Linked DNA regions of Homo sapiens. The protein of the gene in region 6 purifies or fractionates together with the protein of the main gene of each other region. This does not show direct contact. Each region holds a gene or a part of one and is shown on either strand. Other genes may lie near its edges. The genes, in order: AADAT, PACSIN2, PKP2, TXNRD2, TMEM171, ACOX1 and CNN3.

Region 1 (4,065 bases), on a different chromosome or scaffold from region 6:
GTGAGGTAGTATCTCACAGTAGTTTTGATTTGCTTTTCTCTATTTAAAAAAATTTTTTCCCCAAGCCTGAGTCTTGCCAAATAATCAGACTGCAGGTACAGCAGTCACACATTGTAGAGTACTAACCACTACACGATCATGGAACTTGCGGCTTTCATACGTTGATTTATGTTGCTTTGCATTTCTCTACTAATGATGTTGAGCATCTTTTATGTGCTTATTGGCCTTCTGCACATGTTCTTCAGACTAATGTCTATTTAAGTCCTTTGTCCATTTTTAAATTGGGTTGTTTATCTTTCTGTTGTTGAGTTGTAGGAGTTCTTTATATGTTCTGGTTATTAAAGGTTTATCAGATATATTATGATAAATATTTTCTCCCACTGTATAGACTCTTTTTTCACTGTTTTCATAATGTCCTTTGATACACAACCACTTTTAAATCTTCAAGTTCAATTTATCTATTTTTGTGGTTGTCGTTGCTCATATTTTTGGTCATATCTAAAAAATCCACCAAATCTAAGGTCATAAAAATTTGCCCTTATGTCCTAAGTGTTTGTAGTTTTAGCCCTTATATTTAGGTCTTTGATCCATTTTGAGTTAAATTTTCATATGGTGTGAAGTAAGGGTCCAAGTTCTTTTATATGCATGTGGAAATCCAGTTGTCCCAGCACCACAGTTGAAGAGACTATCCTTTCCCCCACTGAATGATCTTGGCACCCTTACTGAAATCAACTGGATTTGTGGGTTTATTTCTGGATGCTCAGTTCTATTCTATTGGTCTATATGATTGTCTTTATGCCAGTACCACATTGTTTGATTACTGCAGCTTTGCAGTTTTGAAATTGGGAAGTGGGGGTCTTCCAAATTTGTTCTTTTTCAAGATTATTTTGGCTATTTAGGTCCTTTAAACTCACATCAATTTGAGGACTGGCTTTTCCATTTCTACAAAAAAGGCTGTTGGCATATCGATAGGGATTGTATTGAATCTGTAAATTGCTTAGGGTAGTATTAATATCTTAACAATATTAAGTCTTCCAATCTATGAACTGTGGAAGTCTTTCCATTTATTTGAGTTTTGCTTAATTTCTTTCAGCAAAATTTTTCAGTTTTTAATGTACAAGTCTTCCACCTCCTTTGTTAGATTTATTCCTACGTATTTTATTCTTTTGGATGCTATTACAAATGGAATTGTTTTATATATTGCTTTATATGTTGATTTTCATAAAAATAAAATAAAATTTGAAAAAAATAAAAGGATCCATGAAGTTGGAATCAATAGAGCATAAAAGTCATCGCATTGAATTCCCCTACTCTAAGCTAGAATTACTTTAGCCATATTTGTGTTAGGTGGCAGTCAAGAGTGACTGAGCACCTACAGTGATGGGCAATGTTGTAACCCATTATGAAGTCCGGTAAGGCCAATGGTTAGCAAGTTCTTATACAGAGCTGAAATTGTTTCCCTGTGGTTCCAGTTCTATTAACCTAAGGTCATGTACAAATAAATCTAATTCTTTTGTCACATGGCTAACTTCTATGTATTTGAGGACAGTTTTCATGCCTCTGTTGAGTCTTTTCTTTCTGGGGAAAATAGCTCCAGTTCCTACAACCATTCATCATATGATATGGCTTCCAATTCCCTATTTACTCTGACTATCTTTCTCTGAGTATGCTCCAGTTGTGGACATTTCTGTCTTAAAGTAGACTGCCCCAAACAAACCTAATGCTCAGCAATGTGCTCTGACCAGTGCAGAGCAGAGTCAGATCATCAGCTTCCTCATTCTGTAAATCACAGTTCCACGGATCTAACCTTGGAATGGAAAGTCGTCATTATACCATATAAGTATACTAAACTGACATATAACATAGTTGTACTTATGCATATGGTAATAAGATAGTAATAAAAAATAAATTTTTGTAATTTAAGTTACATTTCAAGTAAAATATTAAGAGAATTGGACATGATTTTGCATAATCTAATTTTAATGCCTATACACTTGGATTTCAAAAAAGAAATGTATAAAGAAGAGAATACATTTCACATACTTTGTATATATCCTTTAAGATTATCCTGCTTATGGATAAAATATGCTATTTCATTTTTCTGTGGACAGATTATTTTAAAGTTAATAAGATATTAACTTTATTATAATAAAGTTATTATAAAACCTTTATTATAAGTTTTCTTCTTATTTACTACAAGAGAGTTGCCTTTAGTAAAAATGTATACTCACACTTTGAAGAGTTCCTGAATAAGCAGGTTCATCTAGGAGGACATTATCTCCAGGATTAATGATCATTTCAAACACCTAACAAAAGAAGCATAGGTTAGCTTGTTAGTCAGCATAGGTTAGTACTGTTTCCATGCTCAGAAGCCCATTTTTTAGTTTGAGCTCACATGGTTCTAGAGTAAGAATTAGCAAATTGTTTATAAGGGGCCAAACAGTAAACACTTTGCGGGTCATAGTATCTCTGTTGCAACTACCCTGCAACTACTCTGCCTCTATAGTGAAAAAGTAGCCATAGACAATATATAAATGAATGGGTGTGACTGAGTTCCAATAAAACTTTATTTACAAAATTTGATGAAGGGCTGGATTTGGCTCTCAAACCATAGTTTGCCAACTCCTGTTCCAGAGAAAGGTGAACAGAGGTTTGGCTGCTAACATTCATTTATTCCTTTTATTGCTTCTTTGAAAATCTATTAAATGTTTACTATACGCCAGGCCTGTGTAAAGTGTCAGAGATAAAATAGCAAAATGACATGGTTCTTACTCTCATGGAGCTACTGGTCCACTGGGAAAGCTAGACACCAATTAAATAACTACCCAATAAATGTGCAAATTAAAAACGGTGGTGAGTGATATTAAGTACAGATGCACAATGACATAAGAGCTCATTGTAGGAAGACCTAGGCATTCAGGGAATTCAGGGAAGGCATCCTGGAGGAAGCGATGAGTTGGTGTACGGGGTAACAACAGTTAGATTTGAAAAACCAAAATAATTATGTGTCTTGAGGCAGAATGTAGAGAAAAGAGTGGTGTGACATCAGACAGAAGTGGGCAGAGACCAACCATGTAGGCATTTGAGCCAAGGGAGGCAAGTAAGGATTTTAGGAAGAGAGTGGGGAGGAGGAGTCACATGATTAGATACTCGTCTTGAAAAGATCAATCTGGCTGCAGTATGAAAGAATGAAAGAAGGGTGAGAATACATGTGGAAAGTTTAGAAAGTTTTTAGGATTGTTTGGGAAGTTACTGCCACAGGCCTGGAACAGGTAAGGGTCATCTTAAAGTAGAGTGGTGACAGAGGAATTGTAGAGAAGAACTGAGAGGTATTAGGAAATGAAAAGTAATGGAACATGATTATGGACAATAGGGAAATGAGGAAGAGGAGGTGTCAAGAATGATGCCTAGATACTTGGTTATGGAACTAGATAGATGGTGGGGGTGGTGCCATTCACTGAAACACATAACCAAAAAGCCATCCATATCTGAGTGACAGGATGATTTGTTTTAGTGTGAGGTGCCTTTGAAACACCCTGTGATGATGTCAGATGGATAGATGGACAAATGGATTTGGAAGGAGCCTGGAAGTTACTGGCATATGGTTGATCATGTGAATGTAAATGAAGATACCCAGGAAAAGTACATAGACTAAGGAGAGATGTTTAAGGACTGAGCTACAGGGAACTCCAATAAATAATGGCTGGGTAGAGGAGGACACTGCAAGGAAGGGAGGGAAAGTGGGCTGGAGGAGAACCACACAACATGCTACTGAGAGAGCTAGAGGAGGACAGTGTTTTCAAAAGGGTGGGGGAGACTTCCAGTTCCAAAATGGTGGTGTAGAAGCAAGTTGACTTCATTCCCTCCCACAAAACCACTAACAAATATACAGTGCTAAAATTTACACCAGAAACAACCCAGAACTCAAATATGAGGATGAGTCAGTTCCTAGGACTACAGAGAAGTGAAAAAACTCTGAACAGATGGTAAGAAAGGCATACTTCAGCATCTATGATACCCCTCCTCCCAATTCTGCCTGGCACCAAGCACGTGGAAAAACTCCCC
Region 2 (4,065 bases), on a different chromosome or scaffold from region 6:
TGCCTGCATGAGCGGGCGCGCATCGAGAAGGCGTATGCGCAGCAGCTCACTGAGTGGGCCCGGCGCTGGAGGCAGCTCGTGGAGAAAGGTATGGGGCCCCGGCACAGGTCCTGTGGCCTGGAGGCAGCTACACCCCAGCCGGGGGCTCTGGGCACGTTGTGACCCTCTCTATGCCAGTTTTCTGTCTTTTAAGATTGGGGCAAGAGTGCATTTCCCAGTTCCAGAGCGGGGTGTGATTTTTATGGGGAGCATTAGCGCCCATCACCAGAAGGCACAGGCTCCATGAGCTTTTGTCCACTTTCCTTGGGGACACAGGACTATAGCCCTTGTCATCCATAGGACACACTTGCACTTGCCGAGTTAACTCAGAACTCGGGTAAGTTCCTATCACGTGGAAGGCCTTGCCGCTTGGCACCTTAGTTTCTAACACTGAGAGCTGTTTATTTTTAAACTTGGCCATGTAGCAGGTCAGATAAGACTAGCTGGCAACACCTGGCAGTCTTTCTGAGTTTACATTTTAAGGGAATAATTACAGGTGTTGTATGGCAGAGGTTTCACCCCCTTCTGTCCCCACCGAAAAGCTCAGAAGATTCTGTAGCTTTATTAGTGCCACTGTTGTGTGGACAGGGGCCATGCTTAGAACACACTTCCCAGCAGGGAAGGGGAACTTGACTGATTACAGCCTTTCCGGCACAGAAGCAGAGCAGTGTGGGTTTCTCAAGGTGTGTTTTGGGGCAGGCTTTCCTGTGCTGACCAGCTGTCCTCAGCCCCAGCTGTCCTCAGCCAATCAGGGGAGCCAGGTCCCAAGCAAGCCAGGTCTAGTCCAGCTGCCTGTCCTTTCCCGTGATGCTGACATGGGTTGTTTGTGTGGGCTTAGCACAGTCCTTAGGGCAGGGTATGTGCCCAGGCTGTGGAGCAGGCACGTGGCAGAGGAGGGGCCTAGGATAGGTCAGCTCCCTTGGTCGGTGGCAGTGTCGTCATTTCGTTTCCACCTGCTGCAGCCCCTCTCCCAGGATCAAGCTGTCAGTCAGAGCTTGAGGTTTACAGAGCACCCTTACCACCCTCACCTTGTGGGTCTGGCTGTAACGTTGTGGACAGGACAGGAATGTGCTCATTTTGTAGACACGAAGGCACAGAGAGGTCCAACTTCCGGGGCTGTTCTCTGTTGTCTCCAAGCCCCAGAGTCACGTGTCCCCCTCTGGGTTCTCACAGCCTGCCCTCCCCTCAGCCCACCTCTGTCATGACTCAGCGCACTTGGTCACTGTCCCTGTGACCACCTTGAAGACCAGCCATGGATCTTCTCGATTTCTGCCCCGGCTCCGTTGTGGCTCTCCCTCCCTCCAGCCTCACGCCACCCCACCCTACCCCCTGAATAGAAATGCCAGCCTGGATTAGGGCTTCCTTCCTGAGCCTCGGGGACTGAGAACAGTGAGTAGGGAGAGGCGACTCAGCCCCTCCTGCCATACTGGTCCAGAGCAGGCTCCTGCTTCCTCCTCTCCTTCCTCCTGCAGGATGGGCTTCCATTCTGCTGAGGGGACAGTCCTCATTCCACAGTGTTCTCAAGCTTGTGCTCAGAGCCAGGCTCTTTCTGGGAGTGAATGAACACAGTCCTGCAGAGGAAGGCAGTGCAGGGCTAGCCAGGGGCCAAGCAGGGCTGATAGGAGCCATGCCAGGAGAAGCGTTGGCATGGTGTGGGTGGGTGCCCAACACCTGGGAGAAGCATCTGCTCACTTCAGAAGGTCCCCCCTTCTCTGGCCACCTTTAAGTAAATTAAGACTTCTAAGATGTGGAAATTTGAGTTTTTATAGAGTTCAGTGGCTTTAAATAAAGGAAAGGCATGGCCGGGCGCGGTGGCTCACGCCTGTAATCCCTGCACTTTGGGAGGCCGAGGCGAATGGATCACCTGAGGTCAGGAGTTCGAGATCAGCCAGCCTGGCCAACATGGTGAAACCCCGTCTCTACTAAAAATACAAAAATTTAGCCAGGCGTGGTGGCGGGCACCTGTAATCCCAGCTACTCGGGAGGCTGAGGCAGGAGAATCTCTTGAACCTGGGAGACAGAGTTTGCAGTGAGCCAAGATCACGTCTCTGCACTCCAGCCGGGACAATAAGAGCGAAACTCCATCCCAAAAATAAAAATAAAGGAAAGGCATGTAATCCCCCAATTTTCCTAACACGAGGGGCAGAGCAAATTCAGCTTTGGGAACTGAAAAAGGCACAGAGTCCCTGAGAGAAAAATATCTGAAACCCTGAAAGGAAACCCTCTGTGGTCTAAATGGCCACATTGAACAGCCGAGGTGTGAGCAGAGCAGACCCCACCATGGCCGGCGCTGAGTGACCCGCAGCTTCTCTCCCCTGCACAGGGCCCCAGTACGGGACCGTGGAGAAGGCCTGGATGGCCTTCATGTCCGAGGCAGAGAGGGTGAGCGAGCTGCACCTCGAGGTGAAGGCCTCACTGATGAACGATGACTTCGAGAAGATCAAGAACTGGCAGAAGGAAGCCTTTCACAAGCAGATGATGGGCGGCTTCAAGGAGACCAAGGAAGCTGAGGACGGCTTTCGGAAGGCACAGAAGCCCTGGGCCAAGAAGCTGAAAGAGGTACATCTGTCCTGCAGGCTTCCCTGCCCGGCCTTGCTCTGCCTGGCACCCCACTAGCAGCACCACCTCCTGCACCTAGGACTTCCTGCCACTGGCTGTAGGCACAGGAGGCCAGACCTGGTAGAGATGAAGCCACTCCTCAGGCTAGAAGCCCATGGTAGTTGACATTTACCCAGGTTGAAGATGCTGAATGCTCTATGTGCATTCTTTAAATTTTTTATTTTTATTTTTTGAGACAAAGTCTCACTCTCTCTCCCAGGCTGGAGTGCAGTGGTGCAATCTCAGCTCACTGCAACCTGTGCCTCCTGGGTTCAAGCAATTCTGCCTCAGCCCTCCGAGTAGCTGGGACTACCGGCACATGCCACCACACCCTGCTAATTTTTGTATTTTTAGTAGAGACGGGGTTTCACCATGTTGGCCAGGCTGGTCTCGAACTCTTGACCTCAGGTGATCCACCCACCTTGGCCTCCCAAAGTGCTGGAATTACAGGGCATTCTTTAAATTTGATCCTACCAACACATTTTACAGATTTGGTAACTGAGGATCAGAACCATACATTGGTGGTAGAGCTCAAAGCCCAAGCTCTTAACCACTAACAGTACTTCTCCCAACCCTGGGGAAGTGTCTGCTGGAGACTTAAAAGTCCTTGCCGGGCGCGGTGGCTCACGCCTGTAATCCCAGCACTTTGGGAGGCTGAGGCAGGCGGATCACGAGGTCAGGAGATTGAGACCATCCTGGCCAACATGATGAAACCCCATCTCTACTAAAAGTACAAAAATTAGCAGGGCGTGGTGGCGGGCACCTGTAGTTCCAGCTACTCAGGAGGCTGAGGGAGGAGAATCACTTGAACCCAGGAGGTGGAAGTTGCAGTGAGCTGAGATCACGCCACTGCACTCCAGCCTGGTGACAGAGGGAGACTCTGTCTCAAAAAAAAAAAAAAAAGTCCCTTTGGCTGCTCTGCGTGTGCAGTAGCCTTTCTTTATTCCTTTACTTTCTCAATAAACTTGCTTTCACTTTATTTTTTTTTCAAGTCCCTTTGACGATAGAAAGAACTAGTTTACATTTTTCTTTCTCTTGCATAGGTTTTTATCCCAAAATTTCAAACATTGATACCTGTTTTTCTAAAAGTAGCAACCAAAGCCATTGAGTTTTGTCGAGCCTTGGCTAGTTGGAGGCTGTCATCTGTCCACCCCAGCCCTCAGCTTGTGTGCCCCGCCCCTGCCTGCAGCCTCGCCCCCCATTCCTAGCTGGAATGGAGTAGACGGTAGATGTGCCACCCCCAACACCCAGATGTTCTCTGGCCTTGCGCTGCCTTCCTCCGCCTCAGAATCATCCAGAACATGCCTCTGTCCTTCCGGATGGTTTTCTCTGTGTCTCCTTTTCTCTGTGTCTTAGCTTTTGTCACATCTCCTTTCTCTTCTGTTTTGTCCCTGGCCCCATTCATAATGAAACTGTCTGTGTCTCATG
Region 3 (4,065 bases), on a different chromosome or scaffold from region 6:
TGGAGAGGTGAGTGGAAAACCAGGGGAAGCTGGTGCCCTGAAAACCAAGGGATGAGAGAATTTCATGGTGTCTCAAACACCACCCACAGGTTGAGTAATATAAGCAGTGCTTATATTACTCAATATAGTGTCTGCTTAGGATGTAGCAGATAAGGCCATCATTGCTACATTTGTCAGGAGACTGTTTAGGTGGAATGGAGGGGACTGAAATCATATTGCAGTGGGTTGACGAGAGACTGGGAAGTGACAGGGTGGTTCAAGAAGCAAGGGACACAGAGATGGAGGGAGAGAATGCCAGTTGTTGGAGGATGTCAGATAATAATTTTGTTACTGTTAAAATCATTTTGCTAAAACTGTGGCTATCACAAATCCTAGGCTATGGTAGGCATTCCATAAATTTTGAATTACCTGTTTAAAAGCCTTTATCAGCTTTTTCCTCCATAAACAATGACCTGATACACTTTCTCTTTTTTTTTTTGAGACAAGGTCTCACTGTGTTCCCCAGGCTGGAGTGCAGTGGCACAAATCTTGGCTCACTGCAACCTCCATCTCCTGGGCTCAAGTAATCCTCCCGCCTCAGCCTCTCGAGTAGTTAGGACCACACGTGCACACAACCACACCCAGCTAATATTTGTATTGCTCGTAGATATGGGGTTTCATCATGTTGCCCAGGCTGGTCTTGAACTCCTAAACTCAAGTGATTCGCTCGCCTGGGCATCCCAAAGTGCTGGGATTACAGGCCTGGGCCACTGCTCCCGGCTTATTTTTCCTCTTTGTAAGTATGCTCATATTGCCTAAGGTCTGCTTACTATAAGAAATGTTAGAAATCTCATGGTGAATTTTACATCATAAAAAATATTTCCTGTGTTAAGATTAGATTAGCCCTCATCATTTTGAGAAGTAGTTTATTAATGATGCTACCTGGTCAGTGAGCATGCTGTACAATTTCACTTGAAGGGATGTTTAGAGGTAACAACTATCATTAGACAACTTTAGCAATCAAATGACAATAACATATCTAATGTTTTAGCCTAATGATGTTAGATCATTATTGCAGGAGTTACTGATCTAATCAGCCATCCATTTCTCAATCTTTCTCTTAGTAACGTGCACAGTTTATAAAATTTGTGATCAGGCATTAAACTTGAATAAGGGTTAAGTTCCAAACACTAAATTAGTCAAGCTATAAAGTAAATAGGAATGGAAAGGAATGACTTAAAAATTCAGTTATTTTAATAATTTAATACTGCCAAAAGAATACCCCTTCAAATCACTGACACTAGAAATCTAAAAGGTACCAAGTACCAAAGGAAGAAAAAAGACATCTAGAAGTCAGCCATCTTTCCTTAGCTCTTTTTACAGTCATAGTTATCCAAATGGCATTCGTGCTAAGAATAAGCATTTTTTCCTTTTATTTCATGGGATGATGAAGAAAATACGCATGCAATTCTCCAATTCTTGGCCTACTTTGGAGTTTAGAGCAGATTTTCATATGGCTGAGGGGTAGGGTCCCTTCAGCCAGCATCTAATCTGGAACAGATGGACTAAATGTCACATTTCCATACAAAGCTGCCATGTGAGCAGGTAGCTTGGCCCCTGTCCCTGAGGTAAATAGGCTGATCTGTCAATTAGGCAGCTGCCTGAAAAGTCATTATTTTAATCACTTATCTCTGGAAGCCCTTCTCTCAAGCCCCAGAAGTGCCAGCTCATGCTGTCAGGGCTGTGGGAACAGAATGTGCTGGCAATGACTGAACTGCAGAGTCAGGAGGGGACTTACCCCAGCTGGGAGTCAGTGAAAGTGCTTCTCTCAGTGAGCAGATTCCCACTTCCCCCTGCGGCCGCCTGGCCGACAGTCAAGTGCGCTCTCCTCCCGCTGGAATCCACGGCGACACTGGGCCCAGCTTCCCTCAGCGTGCGGGTGCTGTGGAAGGAGCTCTGATGCCAGGAGGACCTGGAAGCCCTGTTCTGAGTGACGGGCTGCAGGGGCACCAGCGGCCTGACCTGCCCGACAGTGAGCCCTGCCGTCAGGTAGTTCTCCTTCTCCAAGAGGTTGCCCATGCTGCGGCTGGTCCCTGGCCTGGGGTACGTGAGCAGGGCCGGGTTGGCAGGGATGCTGTCAAAAACGGTGTCGCTAACAGAGCCATGCTGGTACTGTCTGTGGTATGTGTCAAAGTGGCGCTGCCTGCTTGTGGTGCCAGCACGGCTGACCCCCACGATCTCGGAACGAGCATATCTCGGTGGCACTAGGAGGGCGGCCCGCCTGCTTTCTTGGTGGTGCAGGGTGTGCCCAGCCTGGCTTCTCTGGCTGTACTGGTAATCGCTGTGCGTGTAGTGAGCCCTCTCCGGGCTGCTGTCAGGAGAAATCTCCAGTCTCCTCAGAGGATGCCTCAAGGACCTTTCTTCCACGGACTTCTGGGAGCTGTACTGTGCTGTTCCTCTTCCCCAGCGACCTTCATAAGTGGCAGTTGTGCCAGCCTGCACATGAGAGAAATAAAGTTTAAAGGGGGCATAAATCAAATTTCAACTTTGCTGAGGACTAATTACTCTGGGACTATTACCCAACATGTCCGTTTCTCTGAATCAGATGACGAGAAGTTTGCCCCTTTCTGGGTAAAGGCTTTTTGAAAATAAGACTTGGTTGACTTGAGTCATATTTATTTGCACTAGGATGTAAGAATGTTTCACATCCCTAGTTTTCCATGGTATCCTCATAAATATCAATTTTCTCAAAACTCATTTAGGAAATGATAATACTTGGGAAAAGTAAACACTCAAAAATAATCTTAGGAAGTTTGAAAATATTTTCATGGTAGTAATCTGATCACTAGGGTTACATTCTTTGATATCCTACCTTTAGCATGTCATAGGTTTTAGGAACAGGGGAACGGCCTCCAACAAAATCATTTTCAACCAAGTGTAGGTTGTAGACATACTCAGGAACACTGCTGGTTCGGTGAAGATTTCCTGCAATCAAGCAAATATTAAAATAACTCAGAATACAAGTAGGCTAATTAATATTTACAGACTGTATAACAATGATGTATTAAACTTTTAAATTTAAGTAATGAAGGCCAAGAACAAGTATTAAACGTACGTTAATGTTTTTAAATGCTAGTTTCACACCACCCTGGGATATGGCAAGTGATCAAAGGTTATCAAAACATTCTCTACAAAAGTTTTTCAGCTGGGTGTGGTGGCGCACGCCTCTTATCCCAGCACTCTGGGAGGCAGAGGCAGGTGGATCACCTGAGGTCAGGAGTTCAAGACCAGCCTGGCCAACATGGCGAAACCCATCTCTACTAAACATACAAAAATTAGCTGGGCATAGTGGCGGGCATCTGTAATCCCAGCTACTCAGGAGGCTGAGGCAGGAGAATCACTTGAACTCGGGAGACAGAGGTTGCAGTGAGCCAAGATCACACAATTGCACTCCAGCCTGGGCAACAAAAGTGAAACTCTGTCTCAAAAAGAAAGTTTTGGCTGGGCACGGTGGCTTACACCTGTAATCCCAGAACTTTGAGAGGCAGAGGTGGGTGGATCACCCGAGGTCAGGCATTCAAGAGCAGCCTGGCCAACATGGTGAAAGCCCCTCTCTACTAAAACTACAAAAAATTAGCTGTGCGTGGTGGCAGGCACCTGTAATCCCAACTATTCGGGAGGCTGTGGCAGGAGAATCGCTTGAACCCAGGAGGTGGAGGTTGCAGTGAAGCTGAGATTGCGCCATTGCACTACAGCCTGAGCAACAAGAGTGAAACTCTGTCTCAAAAAAAAAAAAAAAAAGTTTTCAAAATGAAAGTTGAATTTAAAAAAAGAAAAAGAAGGGAGAGGAAATTCACAAAAATCTAAAAATGTTTGGTTGTTATAGTGCTGAAAAATTTGGGACTCATTGTCTGGTTTAGCTGGTCGAGACTATAAAATTCAGTTTCCCGAGTCACAGAACTCTGTTCCCAAGGCAGGAATTCGGAAGCTTCTTGTAATAAGCAGGTGTAGGCAATAAATATAATGGTGACTCAGCACTACTAGATAAGACAGCTTGTATAAACAACAGGATAGGCCGGGCGTGGT
Region 4 (4,065 bases), on a different chromosome or scaffold from region 6:
AGAACTAAGATATTTTCTTTTTTATTCTATTTATTTTTGAGACAGGATCTCACTCTGTCACCCAGAAGATTGTAGTCCACTGCCCTGCTTGGGGGAGGGATGAAAGGTGAGAAGGAACACGGTCAGCACAGGGCTGGGACATAGACCCGGAAGGGCCCCCACGACAGGGGCACAGTGGCACAATCACAGCTCACTGCAGCCTCTACCTCTTGGGCTCAAGTGATCCTCTAGCCTCAGCCTCCAGAATAGCTGGGACTACAAGCACCGATCACCACGTCCAGCTAAATTTTTTTGTTTTGTAGAGATGGGGTCTGGCTATGTTGCCCAGGCTGGTCTCAAACACCTGGCCTCAAGCAATCCTTCCACCTTGGCCTCCCAAGGTGCTAGAATTACAAGCATGAGCCACCAAGGTGGACTAAAACATTCTCAAGTCCACGTGCCTTTCAGTTGTGAAGGCTGCCCTCCGTCACAAGTGAGCAAGAATAAAAGCACAGGCTAGGGGCGGTAGCTCACGCCTGTAATCCCAGCACTTTTGGAGGCCAAGGCGGGTGGATCACAAGGTTAGGAGATCGAGACCATCCTGGCTAACACAGTGAAACCCCGTCTCTACTAAAAATACAAAAAAATTAGCCGGGCATGGTGGTGGGCGCCTGTAGTCCCAGCTACTCGGGAGGCTGAGGCAGGAGAATGGCGTGAACCCGGGAGGCGGAGCTTGCAGTGAGCGGATACCACGCCACTGCACTCCAGCCTGGGAGACAGAGTGAGACTCCGTCTCAAAAAAAAAAAAAAAAAAAAGAATAAAAGCACAAGCAGCCCCTGTCCCTCACAGCTGGCCAGTGCACACAGCCAGGGTCTTGGTGTGCCCAGCTGCAGTCAGCTAGGAGGGAAGCCACCCTGGGCACAGGGAGAGCTGCCTGGGCTCAGGTTTCATCCCTGGAATTCCTTTTGGGCTGGTTGTGGTGTCGCCTCACCTTGGTCCTCCATGGTGGCTCACTGCACATAGTGCCACTCTCAGCCTTTTTAGCCTGCAAAAGGTGTCATCGTGTCTACTCTGCAAGCTACTGGCGAGGAAGGCAGGCAAGGGGCAGCCAAAAAAGGGAGGGATGGAGAAGGGACTGGAGGGAGGAAGTAGAGAGGGGAAGTACACTGAACTGGGCCTGAGGTCCGGGACACCCAGCACCAGGCACCAGCCAACTCCCTGCTGAAGGAAGGAAGAAATAATAGCAAGTCATCAGTCTGCTGGGGTGAGGGCAGGGTGGGGACTGATGACAAGACTCTAGGGTATAAAACAAGTAGTGCCCTCAGCCCCTCTGCAGACACGAGCCTGCCCAGATGAGAAGCACCACCCTCCCAGAGCATCTGGAGCCGGTCGCTGCTTCAGACAAGGCCAAGAGGTTCCATGATCAGAGCAGGGTCTGTCATACAAGGCTGGGCAACCTGCCCAACACCTCCATCAGAGCCTAGCGTCTGCCATGAGAAGGCTGCACTTATCTTTGCAGCCACCTCCACCTTCCTAGGCAGGCAAGGCTGCAGAGAGTGTACTTGGAGTGTCATGTCTCTCCACACCCTGGCCCTGCAGATGCCCCACAGACAGGTCTAGAACATGCACTCCTAAAGGATACAAGAGCTGGAGCCTAGAGGAGCCCTGGCTCACAGCTGAGAAAGCTTGGGAAGCTGCATCCAGGCACTCAGGCCATGGCCTGCAGCGAGCCTGCCCCACAACCAAACCCACCCACTCTTTCACCTGGCAGCCAGCCTCTGAGTGCACGTGAGATGTGTGCGCACCTGCGGGAACTGACAGAGCCACAACTCGGTTCCAACAGCCAGTCCAAAGCACACTCAATTCCTAATTCAACTCAAGGGCTCTGGAAAGGCCTAAATTGTTGTAAATTATTCTAATGGCTTTAATATAAGTCTAGAGAACCAAGGACTGCTGGTCAGGGAGAAAATGCCACCAGGTCCCCCGGGGAGCATGAACCTGCTGATGGAGAAGCATCTCTCTCCTCCAGCTGCCTGGTAGCCGGAAGCTTTGCTCAGAACGTCCCTACCTTCCATGGCAGGTGCCTGTCCTTCTTGTTGCCATAGCAGGGCCCTTGTTAGGTCATCCTGCCCTGCAGCCTCGCACTGTGCCCCCTCTGTCTGCTATCAGGCAGGGTGAGCAGCTGTCTGTATGGATGTGCTTATCTTGGGCAGCTTGCTCGCCCCCTGTGCACACCCAGGAGCCCTCTCGGGCTGATAAACACTGGCATAGGGCAGTCGTTTGCAAGCATAGGAAATCTGCCTTTAAGCACTTGGAAGGGCTTGGGTAGCCTGCTGGGAAGGAAGGACCCCAAAGTACCTCAAAGGTGGGTAGGGCAGATGCTGTTCTGTGGGAGGAAGGGCTGGGTGGCAGGCGTTACCTGGGGACACACCACCTGTGCACTCCAGTGTCCTGGAGAACCTCATAACCTTGCCTTTCACCCACTTTAGCCAGGCATACCCTCTCCACCTGCAGGGCTTGGCCCCAGCAAGTGTCTGTCTTGCCTCTGCCTTCTGACATATTGTCCATTAATTTTCTGCTCCTCTTTGAACCCACTGCCTGGTACAGGCCAGCAAAGAGCAGGAGCCCAGAGCTCATAGCAAGGCCCAAGAGAATGCAGCACTGCACCAGTGAGGGCAAGTGGAAGGGTCCCCCAAAATGTGCACCCACAGGCAGGCTGGCCACCTCAGGGTGCCACCTCAGGGGCCCTCCTGTATGGCTGCTCTATCTAGAGCTCTTTCCTGGCAGCAGGTGTTGTCATTCTGGCTCCTGTTCAGGGGCTGCATCGCCCACCCACTCCAAGCCTGGGACAGTTCAGGTCTTCCTACTCTAAAAGGAGAAACTGCAGGGCCCACAGTCCCAGCTACTAGGGAGGCTGAGGCTGGAGGGTGAGTTGAACCCAGGAGTTCAAGGCTGCAGTGAGCTATGATAGCACCACTGCACTCCAGCCTGGTTAACAGAGTGAGACTCTGTCTCAGAAAAAAAAAAAAAAAAAAACTGCACCCCTAGTCTGGGTACAGTGGCTCACACCTGTGTTGCAGGAAGTCAGGAACCCCGAATGGAGGGACTGGCTGGAGCCGTGGCAGAGGAACATAAATAGTGAAGATTTCATTTCAATATGAACATTTATCAATTCCCAAGTAATACTTTTATACTTTTTTCTTTTTTTTTTTTTTGAGGCAGATTCTCTCTCTGTCGCCCAGGCTGGGGTGCAGTGGCACAATCTCAGCTCACTGCAAGCTCCGCCTCCTGGGTTCACACCATTCTCCTGTCTCAGCCTCCTGAGTAGCTGGGACTACAGGCACCCGCCACCACACCTGGCTAATTTTTTGTACTTTCAGGAGAGACAGGGTTTCACCATGTTAGCCAGGATGGTCTTGATCTCCTCACCTTGTGATATGGCTGCCTCGGCCTCTCAAAGTGCTAGGATTACAGGCATGAGCCACCGCGCCTGGGCCCCCAAGTAATACTTTTATAATTTCTTATGCCTGTCTTTATCTCTTAATCCTGTTATCTTCATAAGCTGATAATATACATCACCTCAGGACCACTGTGATAATTGTGTTAACTGTAGAAATTGATTGTAAAACGTGTGTTTGAACAATATGAAATCAGCGCACCTTGAAAAAGAACAGAATAACAGTGATTTTTAGGGAACGAAGACAACCATAAGGTCTGACTGCCTGTGGGGTCAGGCAAAAAGAGCCATATTTTTCTTCTTGCAGAGAGCTTATAAATGGACGTGCAAGTAGGAGAGATATCGCTAAATTCTTTTCCTAGCAAGGAATATTACTATTAAGACCCTGGAAAAGGAATGCATTCCTGGGGGGAGGTCTGTAAACGGCCACTCTGGGAGTGTCTGTCTTATGCGGTTGAGATAAGGACTGAAATACGCCCTGGTCTCCTGCAGTACCCTCAGGCTTATTAGGGTGGGGAAAAAACTCCGTCCTGGTAAATTTGTGGTCAGACTGGTTCTCTGCTCTTAAACCATGTTTTCCGTTGTTTAAGATGTTTATCAAGACAATATGTGCACAGCTGAACATAGA
Region 5 (4,065 bases), on a different chromosome or scaffold from region 6:
CACCTCTTTCCCTCTCCCATCAGATAACCTGTCCCCCTGCTTTTGTGGGAAAAGAATCTCTACACAACTTCATTCCCTCCAGGCCCCAGAGAAAAGGCACCCTGGCCCCTGCTCCAAGGCCCACTGCCTGCTCTGTCAAGGCAGGGTGGAGAGGGAGTTCCTTAAACACGAATAACAAGGTAAGGTGGTGCTATCCCCAGCAATGAGCACCAGTCTCTCTGTGCCTGCTGCTCACTGCATGCAAAAATGCACATATCTCATTGTCTTACCTGCTTCACCCTGTGACAATGTGAAGCAATTCTTCCTTCCCTTCCTAAACCCTGGTTTCCCATTCTAGAAGGTACCACCAGAGCCTTCTCCAGCCCTGCTCCCTGAGCACACCATTTCTGGGGTATGCACAAGCCCCTCCTGGGGGTCTCCCACTAGTCCCTGACTCTTTGCCCTTCTGGTTCTCCAACAACCTCTGCAGCTCCATCTCCATCACCTCCTCTCTCTCCCAAAACCCAGCCCTTCCCAGTCTGCCTCCAAGGCCCTCATCTCACTGTACCGCCACCATCAGCCGCCCACCATCCTTTCCCCACCGAAACCAAGCTCATCACTCACGTCTTCTCAGTTGGGGACCTCTGAGCTTCCCTGTCACTCACCCTGGAACTCATCATCTTCGCCTCTTCCTCAATGTCATTCTCCATCCAGACCCCCTCCCCCAGGCTCCTGGCACCTCAGGCCCGTCCCACTAGAGCCTGCCTCGCTGCATTCTGTGTGGGGTGGGTATTGACCTGATATTCTCTGCGGCCCAGGGAAGGAGCGAATATTGAAGGAGAGGCCCAGTTGTGTTGGATCGGGGCTCAGGCTGACTTTAGCCAGTCACCCAAGCACGGCCATCAGAGTACTAAAGCCCTTCTGTAACTGTTGGGGATCCCCTGAGACCCTCACACCTCTCCATGATCTAAAGCAGTGAAGCCTAGCATAGCAGGGGCCTCCTGGCCCAGTCCTGGTGCTCAGTCTGATTGGTGGGTCATTAAACATTCTTTTTTTTCCCCCTGAGATAGAGTCTCTCTCTGTTGCCCAGGCTGGAGTGCAGTGGCGCGATCTCGGCTTGGAGCAGAAGAATAGGGTGTGGAGGCAGGGAATCTACGGCCGTTTCACGCTGACTTCCTAGAACTAAATTGAAAGGAAAACCCTAACTTTCCACCCCTGAGTAACAAAAGGACCAAAGACTACTCCCTTTGCAAACACCCACCTTTCGGCAGATGGGAAATTGAAAGTGCCTCTAATTGGTTGCTTTTTGCAACCAATCAGACATTTGCATAGGACAACAACTTTGTAACTTCACTTCAGCCTCTGATTGGCTGCTTTCTGCAACCAATCAGACGGATTGTGGGCCACCACTTCATTTACATGAGGTGAACACAAAGTGGCCAATGGGAAACCTCTAGGGGTGATTTGGACCCAAGAAGATTCTGGAACTGGGCCCTTGAGCAGCTGTTCAGGCTTGCTCCCACCCTGTGGAGTGTACTTCCATTTTCAATAAAATTTTGCTTTTGTTGCTTCATTCTTTCCTTGCTTCGTTTGTGCATTTTGTCCAGTTCTTTGTTCAAAACACAAAGTACGTGGACACCCTCCGCCGGTAACAGGCTCACTGCAACCTCTGTCTCTTGCGTTCAATCGATCCTCATGCCTCAGCCTCCCGAGTAGCTAGGATTACAGGTGCCTACCACCATCCCCAGCTAATTCTTCTATTTTTCGTAGAGACAGGGTTTTGCCACGTTGGCCAGGCTGGTCTCAAACTCCTAAGCTCAAGTGATCCACTCACCTTGGCCTCTCAAAATGCTGGGATTACAGGTGTGAGCCACAGCACCCGGCAAGGGTTGTTAAACATTCTGAGTATCACCCCTGTTAGGAGCACATAAAGATAGATGCCTGGAGTAGGCTTCATATTAACCCAGCATGATCACTTTATCATTTTTAACTTATGTGCTGCCCAAATTTCGGCAAAGGTACTGTTAATATCAAGACACTAATTCTGACATAACATCAGCAAAAAAGATACTCACACTTGAATGCCTCCTGGTGAACCACACAGCCTTAATACTAGTGTGGCCTGAATTCAGGCCTCTCTTGAAGTTCAAATTGAAATTCTTACCCATAGTTGAAAATACTGTAATATGAAGGGGGGTTTTCATTCGGAAGCAGACTGTTAGTTCCAGGACTCTCAGCGACCGCAGAAGCTGAAGATTCAGGAAAGTAAGGTGGTGGAGGGGGTGGAAATATTATTACCGAGTCACCTAAGGCAAAACAATATTTAGTTGACAACAGGTGGGTAATAAATGGAAGCAAATTAGCAAAAGCAAAATTAATTATATATTTGGCCCATCTATATAAAAGGTCAACACACCTGCTGCTAACTCCAAAATTTAAAAGTAAGCCCATTAAATGTATAGAGATAGAAAAGTAGACTAGGTTACCAGGGGCTAGGAGGGGTTCGGGAGGAGGAAGGGAGTGGGAATTGCTGTTTGGTGAGTACAGAGTTGCTGTTGGGGATAATGGAAGAGTTCCAGAAATTGATGATGATAATGGTTGAACAACATTGTGACTGTATTCAATGCCACTAAACCATTTAAAAACGGTTTGGCTGGGTGCAGTGGCTCACACCTATAATCCCACCACTTCGGGAAGCTGAGGAGGAAGGATCGCTTGAGCCCAGGAGTTGGAGACCAGCCTGGGCAACACAGCGCTATCTCATCTCAAAAAAATTAAAAGAAAAAATTTAGCCAGATGTGGGAGTACACGCCTGCAGTCCCAGCTACTCGGAAGGCTGAGATAGGAGGACTGCTTGAGCCCAGGAGTTCTAGGCTGCAGTGAACTATGATTGTACCACTGCACTCCAGCCTGGGTGACAGAGCAAGACCCTGTCTTAAAAAAAAAAAAAAAGCCAGGCGTGGTGGCTCACGCCTGTAATCCCAGCATTTTGGAAGGCCGAAGCGGGTGGATCACTTGAGGTCAGGAGTTCAAGACCAGCCTGGCCAACACGGCGAAACCCTGTCTCTACTAAAAATACAAAGAAAAAACAATCAGGCAGGCGTGGTGGCAGGCGCCTGTAATCCCAGCTATTCGGGAGGCTGAGGCAGGAGAATTGCTTGAACCCGGGAGGCAGAGGTTGTGGTGAGCCAGGATCATGCCACTGCACTCCAGCCTGGGTGACAGAGTGAGATTCTGTTTCAAAACAAAACAAAACGAAACAAAAAGCAGTTTAAATTGTTTATGCTTTATATATATATATATATATATATTTTTTTTTTTTTTTTACCACAAATTTTTTAAAAGTAGGCCTACATTTCAGAATCCAGAGTGCTGACAATTATGGTATGAAAGCAGGTCTATATTTTGTAGCAAGTCTAAGACCAAGCCTTTTTGTGAATTGTTTGCTAACAAGCTCCTTTCCCTCCTCTGGGGTGTCTACTGCTGAAAAAGCTTTTCTCGTTTTCAGCCTACAACTTTAATTCACAAGTTAGCTGTTGGCTAAAGTGCCTTGTTCCTCAAATGTAGTTTCAGCCCCTGAGCAAATGACAGTAAGCCATATTACAGCCCCTAACTGTTATTTACCAAAATTTCACCCATACAGATGAAGGTTGAACCCAAAGAAGTTTGGTTTTTGCATTTCTGTGGCTACTGTTCACTCCAGAATACATCCTCATGTTTTGAGGAGAAACTAGGGACCAGATGCAAACTCTAATTTGTATTCCGATTCCAATATAAAATGCACCACACAAGTGGACCAGAACAGTGTAGAGCTCTGGCAGCACCACTGCTGGGGGCCTGGTGAAAGCCTCTGAGAAGCTGGCAATAGCAATAACAGTTCAGAAAAAATGAAGAAGATGGGGCTTTACTTCCCTGTAGTGGTTCACACTCCTAGCATGTCTGATGCTTGCTTAGGGTGGCATAGGATTCTTTAAAGTGATGGGGGTTCCAACCTGAACAAGCTAGGCGACCTCCTTGACCTCAGCCGCCACAGCTGTAAACTGCAGGCCAGGCAGTTCTTGCATCACAGGACAGATAGAAGGAAGG
Region 6 (4,065 bases):
CACGTTGATGGAGCTGTGGAAATACAGGTACAGAGCTTGCTCAATATATTGTCAACTGGTTCTGTGTTTCAGGAAAAGCCTCAAACTATGCAGCAAAAGCTCTAAAATGCTCATGTCCCTCAATATAGTAATTCATTTCTGAGAGGTATTCCAGAAGTATGACCCCAAAGAATACAGCGTCTTATTTATTTATTTATTTATTTATTTTTTGAGACGGAGTCTCACTGTTGTTACCCAGGCTAGAGCGCAATGGCGCAATCTCAGCTCACCACAACTTCCACCTCCCAGGTTCAAAAGCTTCTCCTGCCTCAGCCTCCCTAGTAGCTGGGATTACAGGCACGCACCATCACACCCAGGTAATTTTGTATTTTTAGTACGGACGGGGTTTCTCCATGTTGGTCAGGCTGGTCTCGAACTCCCGACCTCAGGTGATCCACCCACGCTGGCCTCCCAAAGTGCTGGGATTACAGGCGTGAGCCACCGTGCCTGGCCAGAACACAGCTTTCATAAAGTTTATATTATTATCACTAATATTGGTGAAATTTAGCCCAAATCCCCAGGGAAGCAAGTCTCATGAGAAGTCCAACAGGGAAGAGAATCACTTGGGCAGAGGGAAGAGGAGACTGTTAAGCCTAGGGAGAGAGGGCAACGGAGTGCGGTAAAGACTGATGACTTAAAAATCAAGTTTACTACCTCTTTCCAGTTTCAAAGAAAGGTGCATTATTTCATATTTAAGTGTTAATGATGGCAATTTGCCAGGATACTGCATCAGCTTCAAGGATAACTATGTATCATACAATCTCTATATTCCTAAATAGATGGTAATACGAAACAAGGCAATGTGACCCCAGTCCATGGGTGAGGAATAAAGAAAGAAAGGAACGAAAGGAATGGAGGAAGGGAAGAAGACAGAAAGAGAGCGAGAAAGAGGCCGGGTGCAGTGGCTTACACTTCTAATCCCAGCACTTTGGGAGGCCGAGGTGGGCAGATCGCCTGAGGTCAGGAGTTCAAGACCAGCCTGGCCAACATGGTGAAACCCTGTCTCTACTAAAAATATAAATATTAGCCAGGTATGGTGGTGCACACCTGTGATCCCAGCTACTCAGGAGGCTGAGGCAGGAGAATCACTTCAACCAGGGGGAGGTGGAGGTTGCAGTGAGCCGAGATTGTACCATTGCACCACTCCAGCTTGGGCAACATGAGACTCCTTCAAAAAAAAAAAAAAAAAGAGGAAGGAAGGAAGGAAGTGAGCAAGCAAGCAAACAAGGAAAACAAAGCAAGAAGAATCTCCAGAAATGGCCACATCTTGAAATGATTACATATCTGTGAAGAGCAAACAAACGACCTGTTTTGTGGCCTAAAGAAACATATGGTCAGGATGATAACATGGACCCAGTTCCCCAGGCTGTTCCTTTGATCCCAGAACTCCAGGGAGGTGAGCCTATCACCCAGGTTCAGGCCTCTGCCTTTGATTATGGCTCCCAGACCCACAGGGCAGGTGTATATCCGAGTTTCTTCGTGTCCTTAGAGGAAAGAAGACACACTCTAGAAAGAAGGATAATGCTGGTGACTGAGACTTTCTGTAGGTGACTGAATTTTAGGATTTGGAAGGAACATGGAGTGAACCTGAATACTTCTGAGCCCCTTCACTTCTCAGCAGCTACCCAGAAGTGAAAGAATCCCAAACCCAAAGTTACAGCTACTTCTGTGAGACCGCGTTAGATAATCACTGTTCACTGTTGATCCATTTTCCAAAGTCTCAGAATTTAAATAGTTAGATCTCATTCTATATAAGCTGCTCTATTGCCGATCTCCTGGACGTTGACTTTTTGTGTATTCCATATAAGATAAAACCGTCACGTGATGCAAATTAACCAACCTGACTTATTTCCAAGGAAAAGATCAGTCATCAACCAAGAACAGCAATATGAATTAGCAAAATTCCAGCAAGAAAAAAGACTAATCTTAGGACACTGTTCTCTAAACCACAGAGATTAAGACAACGTTGGTTTAAATACAAGAAAATACCCAAAACTAGCTGGGCATGATGGCTCACGCCTATAATCCCAGCACTTTGGGAGGCCGAGGCGGGCAGATCACCTAAGGTCGGGAGTTCGAGACCAGCCTGACCAACATGGAGAAACCCCGTCTCTACTGAAAATACAAAATTAGCCGGGCATGGTGGCACACGCCTCTAATCCCAGCTACTAGGGAGGGAGAGGCAGGAGAATCACTTGAACCTGGGAGGCGGAGGTTGCGGGGAGCCGAGATCGCGCCATTGCACTCCAGCCTGGGCAACAAGAGCAAAACTCTGTCTCAAAAAAAAAAAAAAAAATACCCAAAACTAAAAGCAATAAGGGAACGAAAACTCTAACAAATGCAAACTTGCCCACAGCCATATAGGATCTCTGTCCAACTTCTGTTTGCCTCAAACCAGTATAGTTCAAGTCTTCCTTTCTTCCTCTCTCCTTTCAAAAATTAGGGCAGGCCGGGCGTGGTGACTCACACCTGTAATCCCAGCACTTTGGGAGGCTGAGACAGGTGGATCACCTGAGGTAAGGAGTTTGAGACCAGCCTGGCCAAAATGGCCAAACCCCATCTCTACTAAAAATAACAAAATTAGCCGGGCATGGTGGCAGGTGCCTGTAATCCCAGCTACTCAGGAGGCTGAGGCAGGAGAATCCCTTGAACCCAGGAGGTGGAGGTTGCAGTGAGCTGAGATCACTCCACTGCACTTCAGCCTGGGGCACAGGATGAGACTCTGACTCAAAAAAAAAAAAAAAAATTAGGGCAAATATATATTTGTGATATTACTTTATAAATGAGGCAGAAGCATTAGACCAACAAGAGGTAAGAGGTATACTTAACAAATCCATTAGCCTCAGACTATTTCACATCTTATGCCTCCTATGAACAGCATGACTGTTAAGTCGAATAAATTCTATAATGATGAATACTGAAACAGAGTTCTGTACCACAAAGCTACTTCAAAATTACAACACACACACACACCACGCATGCATGTACACAAACACACAGATACTCCAAGCGAGGAGGACTACATAAAGAATCTTATCTCTCAGGCCGGGTGCAGTGGCTCATGCCTTGTAATCCCAGGACTTTGGGAGGGCAGATCACGAGGTCAGGAGATCAAGACCATCCTGGCTTACACGGTGAAACCCCGTCTCTACTAAAATACAAAAAATTAGCCGGGCGTGGTGGCGGGCACCTGTAGTCCCAGCTACTGAGGAGCTGAGGCAGGAGAATGGCGTGAACCCAGGAGGCGGAGCTTGCACCGAGCCGAGATGGCACAACTGCACTCCAGCCTGGGCGACAGAGTGAGACTCTGTCTCCAAAAAAAAAAAAAAAAAGGAAGGATCTGTCAGCCAGGCGCGGTGGCTCACGCCTGTAGCCTGTAATCCCAGCACTTTGGGAAGCCAAGGTGGACAGATCACCTGAGGTCAGGAGTTAAAGACCAGCCTGGCCAACATGGAGAAACCACGTCTCTACTAAAAATACAAAATCAGCCGGGCGTGGTGGTGAGCACCTGTAATTCCAGCTACTCGGGAGGCTCGGGCAGGAGAGTCACTTGAACCCAGAGGCGGAGGTTGCAGTGAGCTGAGATCATGCCATTGCACTCCAGCCTGGGCAAAAAAAGCAAAACTCTGTCTCAAAAAAAAAAAAAAAAAAAAGAATCTTATCTTCCTTTACAAACCTTTCTTTCAGGCTTATAATTTCAGTACTGACCATCTTGAAGTTGAAGTCTTGAGTGTTTAGTAAAGTGTCTGGAACATCAAACCATGACCAGAAAGCTGCAGTACCCATGGAGATGACAATAAATAACATTTTCCTTAAACCAATTCACACACTGAAATCAGCAATCAAACACAAAATGATGTTTCCCTGATATCTGCATCCCTTTTTCTTTCCCTTTCTTTACTCCTGCCATTTTGATAATTAGACATGAGGCTGGGCAGTTCAAATTCCAAACACTCAAACCTGCCAATGGCCTTGTCTATGAAAACAAACCTATTTCACATTAAGATCAAAAGCAAAACTTTTTGA
Region 7 (4,065 bases), on a different chromosome or scaffold from region 6:
AGGGCGTTCTCAACTAGGAGATATATTTTGATCAATCTGAAGAAAAACATAATATGCTAGGGTGAGAGGAGTTCTGCCTTGGCGCCATGCCTGGCTCCATCTATCTTTGCTATGGGCCTGGGTTAGTTCCTCTAACTTCTCTCGATCCAAGAGGAAGTCTAAACTGGATGCCTGCACTAGGTCCGTTCCTACTCTCAGCTATCTACACAATTTGGTCAAATAATAAAAAACTGAAGAAGTATTTTCTCGTTTCTTCAAATGTAGAGAAAAATTATGTTAGAGTAGTTTGGGATATTTCACAGGATGGTGATGGTAATTCTCATACCAAATGACATCAATTAATATTTAAGCAGAAAAACATTAAAAGCATATTTATGCATCCTTTGTTCAAAATGTGTCCAACAGATTTGGTGCCATGCCCCAAACCACGAAGTGACTACAGACCTAACTTGAAATATCCTAGTAGATCCCAGTAAGAAGTTTTCACCTTCTCTGTTGACAGTTCTTGTCAAGGAAGTGATGAGATAGAAAAATCAAGCACTGGAGTCAGATGGACCTCAGTTCAAATCCTGGCTCTACCAATGAGTGGTTGTGGGGGGGAGCTCTGGACAGGTGATGCTGTCCTTGAGACTTACCATATGACCACGTGCACAGAAGAAATTCGTATGTACAAGCATGCAAAACTCAAAGCCCCATATGATCAATTAAAAATTAAGACTAGGAATGCAGCCACATCAAATAACTGTTGGTGTGGGCTAAGGGTTTCCTTTAAGTAAAGGAGCAACAGGATTCTCCTATCCAAATACTTCGAATATTTTTCTAGTAAGTGAGCTTTATGCAGTCAGGCCAGCTAAACAGCATTATCTTTTAAAATCAAGGAACTGAGAGCAATTTAAAAAAGTAATCTTTGGCCAATAAAAATGATTTACTATCTTCATCTAAAAAGCTTTAATTTCTCAACATCTGGCAGAAAAACGCTGACATTTTCTTTCTCTCAACAAAAGAAAGTTAGCTTAAAATAATTGCTTAAACTTACCTCATTAATACTTCATGGAAATTTCACTCTAATTTACTTAAAAATTACTCTTCCTGACAGGGCGCAGTGGCTCACGCCTGTAATCCCAGCATTCTGGGAGGCCAAGGTGGGCAGATCGTGAGGTCAGGAGATCAAGACCATCCTGGCTAACACGGTGAAACCCTGTCTCTGCTAAAAATACAAAAAATTAGACGGGTGTGGTGGCGGGCGCCTGTAGTCCCAGCTACTTGGGAGGCTGAGGCAGGAGAATGGTGTGAACCCGGGAGGCGGGGCTTGCAGTGAGCTGAGATGGTGCCACTGCACTGCAGCCTGGGCAACAGAGCAAGACTCCGTCTCAAAAATAAGAAATAAAAATAAAATAAAAATTACTCTTCCAAGTTGTTGATAAACATCCTTTTCTTTATTCTTCTTCAAGATTTATTTTCTTGGCCTTCCCAAGCTGCTTTCGCAGACTTTCTGCCTGGCTCTTTCAAATCCACAGCAGCCCCTCTCTTTATATGCCCACCTTCCTTTCTTAAACACGCACACATTCTCCAAGCAGTGCCTGACAGCCTTCTTTGCATCAAGGAGCACTTACAAATGATCCAGAGACCGAGGAGAATACTGTCTAGGCACACCTGCTGGAGACTCCTCCCCGAAACTCTCCAACATCCCTCTAGCCAGATACAATCAACATGTGAAGATAATGAAGACCAAGAAAAAAGCCTCCTAGGGCATAGGATACAGCTGATCCTCCTCCCTACATTCAGCGATTGGCCTGCTCTGCTCTCGCTCCTCCGACAGCTTCACCTGCTCCTCTTCATGTTCCTGTGCCTGGGTCCAGGGCTCATCCTGTTGTGGTCGTGGTGGCGGCTTCAGCCCTTAGAGCTTCCCTTGGCTCTCTCCTCAGGACAGCTAAGAGCACCAGTGTGGAGTCACCCTTCAGTTCAAATGCAGATCAGTCCTTTCTTGTTTCATGACCTTTCTTTAGCCCTCACTTTCTTTTGTAATTCTAAAATAATAATTGGTTTTTTGTTGTTGTTTGTTTGTTTTTTTGAGACGGAGTCTCGCTCTGTCACCCAAGCTGGAGTGCCATAGCGTGATCTTGGCCCACTGCAACCTCCACCTCCCGGGTTCAAGCGATTCTCCTGCCTCAACCTCCTGAGTAGTTGGGATTACAGGTGCCCACCACCACACCCAGCTAATTTTTGTATTTTTAGTAGAGATGGGGTTTCGCCATGTTGGTCAGGCTGGTCTTGAACTCCTGACTTCAGGTGATCCGCCCACCTCAGCCTCCCAAAGTGCTGGGATTACGCCCAGCCAATTCCAAAATAATAATTTTTTTAAAAAAATTAGGCTGGGCCAGGCATGGTGGCTCAGGCCTGTAATCCTGCAACTTTGGGAGGCTGAGGCAGGAGGAATCCTTGAGCCCAGGAGTTCGAGACCAGCCAGGGCAATATAGGGAGCCCGTCTCTTTAAAAAAAAAAAAAAAAAAATAGGCCAGGTGGGTGGCTCATGCCTGTAATCCTAGCACTTTGGGAGGCCAAGGCAGGAGGATTGCTTGAAGCCAGGAGTTCCAGGTTGCAGTGACTGATAATCATGTCACTGCACTACAGCCTGGGTGGCAAAGTGAGACTCTGTCTTTAAAACAAAAATAAACAAATAAATGATATACAAGTATGTAGCGCATGCATTCTCAACAGGGGTGGTGGTGTCCCAAAGAGGTGAAAAGTGTTTCTTGTGGTGGTTTCTACCAATGGTGAAAAAAATCTTAAGACAATACAAAAACTTGGGACCCTCCAAAGCTCAACTCTACCCAACAAAATCTTATTCCTTTGTACTAAATCTAGCAAGGGATAGGAGGTAACTAGGAACAATGTCTAAAACAACTCTTGGAGAAGGTGATCATGAAAACAAGGTTAAGAAACACTGAGATAACACTAAAATGTACAAGTCTCTCCCCCCACAAATCACACTCCATTCCCAGAGGGAAGGGCCTATCCTTCAGCCAATTATTCTTCCAGCCCACAGGCACACATATCACATATCACTATTAATCATATATCCAAGAGCTCTGGACTAAGACCACCTTCAGAAACACAACCCCGAGGGCCTATGTGTCCTAACAGTGAAGGCAGACACTAGAGCAGATACAAGCCTACCAGCTGCTGGGAAACAGCCATGCCCCTCCCTGGCTCTGAAATTTGAGAAGCTTCCCCCTAAGAACCCTCAGAAAGGGAGAAAGAGTAAAGGGAGACCTAGCTTCAAAAAGCACCTCCACAGCTGACCCAAAAGCTCGATTCCTGCGCTGTTGAATGGTACTTCTCGGTGTACGCCGAGAGCATTCAGCTCAAGTACCATTTGAAAAAAAGATGGGGGCACATCTGCCATGAGGTAGAGTGATGACATTCATGTACAAGAACTGTCTGATGCCCCCATTACACCCAGGACATTCCAGAATCTACTGAAGAATGAAGACTGCTTGTTTTTCACATGGATTCCTTCTCACAATGTATTATCATCACAGAGCTTGTTCAAACCTGGAAGCAGACAATTCCTGGTTATTGTCCCCAGTGATTACAACAGTCTCCCTAATTTCAGCTGTGGCTCCCCGTTTTGAGCCACCAGGATAATCCTGCATTACTCCAAACTCTCTAAGTAAACTCGTATTCAACATTAGCTTCTGTTTTTCAAGTGTTCCGTGTGTTCCTTAGATTCTTCTTTCATCTTCTTTCTCCATTAATCCTTCTTTCTGTCCTTCATCTAAATGGCTAGTTCATATCAGGCACAGTTCAAAGGCAAAGTCTCTGTCCTAAAAGCTTACATTCTAGCAGAAAGAGACAAATATTAAATACGGTGTATTAAAGAGTTCACAAAAATATATATAAAATAGGGTGTTTAAAATAAAGAGAGAACAATGGGGGCTAACATGGTCCCAAAATAGGAACCAAATAGATTTCCATCTCAAGTATCAAGATTCCTCCTCTCCTTCCTTCTCACTATCACTTGCTATTCTTGGTATCTCATGCAAGGACAATGAACAGGTTTCA

The links.
Region 1: the proteins of ACOX1 (region 6) and AADAT fractionate together in Homo sapiens (co-fractionation; one large-scale study listed by BioGRID). This does not show direct contact.
Region 2: the proteins of ACOX1 (region 6) and PACSIN2 fractionate together in Homo sapiens (co-fractionation; one large-scale study listed by BioGRID). This does not show direct contact.
Region 3: the proteins of ACOX1 (region 6) and PKP2 purify together in Homo sapiens (co-immunoprecipitation; one large-scale study listed by IntAct). This does not show direct contact.
Region 4: the proteins of ACOX1 (region 6) and TXNRD2 fractionate together in Homo sapiens (co-fractionation; one large-scale study listed by BioGRID). This does not show direct contact.
Region 5: the proteins of ACOX1 (region 6) and TMEM171 purify together in Homo sapiens (co-immunoprecipitation; one large-scale study listed by IntAct). This does not show direct contact.
Region 7: the proteins of ACOX1 (region 6) and CNN3 purify together in Homo sapiens (co-immunoprecipitation; one large-scale study listed by IntAct). This does not show direct contact.

The regions. Positions count from the first base shown.
Region 1 is NC_000004.12:170,076,278-170,080,342, forward strand, and holds part of AADAT (kynurenine/alpha-aminoadipate aminotransferase, mitochondrial), read right to left. Parts: intron 2,307-4,065; coding exon 2,232-2,306; intron 1-2,231. UniProt on the Homo sapiens protein: Transaminase with broad substrate specificity. Has transaminase activity towards aminoadipate, kynurenine, methionine and glutamate. Shows activity also towards tryptophan, aspartate and hydroxykynurenine.
Region 2 is NC_000022.11:42,889,480-42,893,544, reverse strand, and holds part of PACSIN2 (protein kinase C and casein kinase substrate in neurons protein 2), read left to right. Parts: coding exon 1-88; intron 89-2,362; coding exon 2,363-2,598; intron 2,599-4,065.
Region 3 is NC_000012.12:32,876,069-32,880,133, forward strand, and holds part of PKP2 (plakophilin-2), read right to left. Parts: intron 2,965-4,065; coding exon 2,852-2,964; intron 2,476-2,851; coding exon 1,778-2,475; intron 1-1,777. UniProt on the Homo sapiens protein: A component of desmosome cell-cell junctions which are required for positive regulation of cellular adhesion.
Region 4 is NC_000022.11:19,931,386-19,935,450, forward strand, and holds part of TXNRD2 (thioredoxin reductase 2, mitochondrial isoform 5 precursor), read right to left. Parts: intron 2,346-4,065; exon of another isoform or gene 2,282-2,345; intron 2,142-2,281; exon of another isoform or gene 2,056-2,141; coding exon of another isoform or gene 2,049-2,055; intron 1,169-2,048; exon of another isoform or gene 985-1,168; coding exon of another isoform or gene 972-984; intron 1-971. UniProt on the Homo sapiens protein: Involved in the control of reactive oxygen species levels and the regulation of mitochondrial redox homeostasis. Maintains thioredoxin in a reduced state. May play a role in redox-regulated cell signaling.
Region 5 is NC_000005.10:73,126,610-73,130,674, reverse strand, and holds part of TMEM171 (transmembrane protein 171), read right to left. Parts: intron 2,286-4,065; coding exon 2,144-2,285; intron 1-2,143.
Region 6 is NC_000017.11:75,968,974-75,973,038, forward strand, and holds part of ACOX1 (peroxisomal acyl-coenzyme A oxidase 1), read right to left. Parts: intron 1-4,065. UniProt on the Homo sapiens protein: Involved in the initial and rate-limiting step of peroxisomal beta-oxidation of straight-chain saturated and unsaturated very-long-chain fatty acids.
Region 7 is NC_000001.11:94,906,488-94,910,552, forward strand, and holds part of CNN3 (calponin-3), read right to left. Parts: intron 1-4,065. UniProt on the Homo sapiens protein: Thin filament-associated protein that is implicated in the regulation and modulation of smooth muscle contraction. It is capable of binding to actin, calmodulin and tropomyosin. The interaction of calponin with actin inhibits the actomyosin Mg-ATPase activity.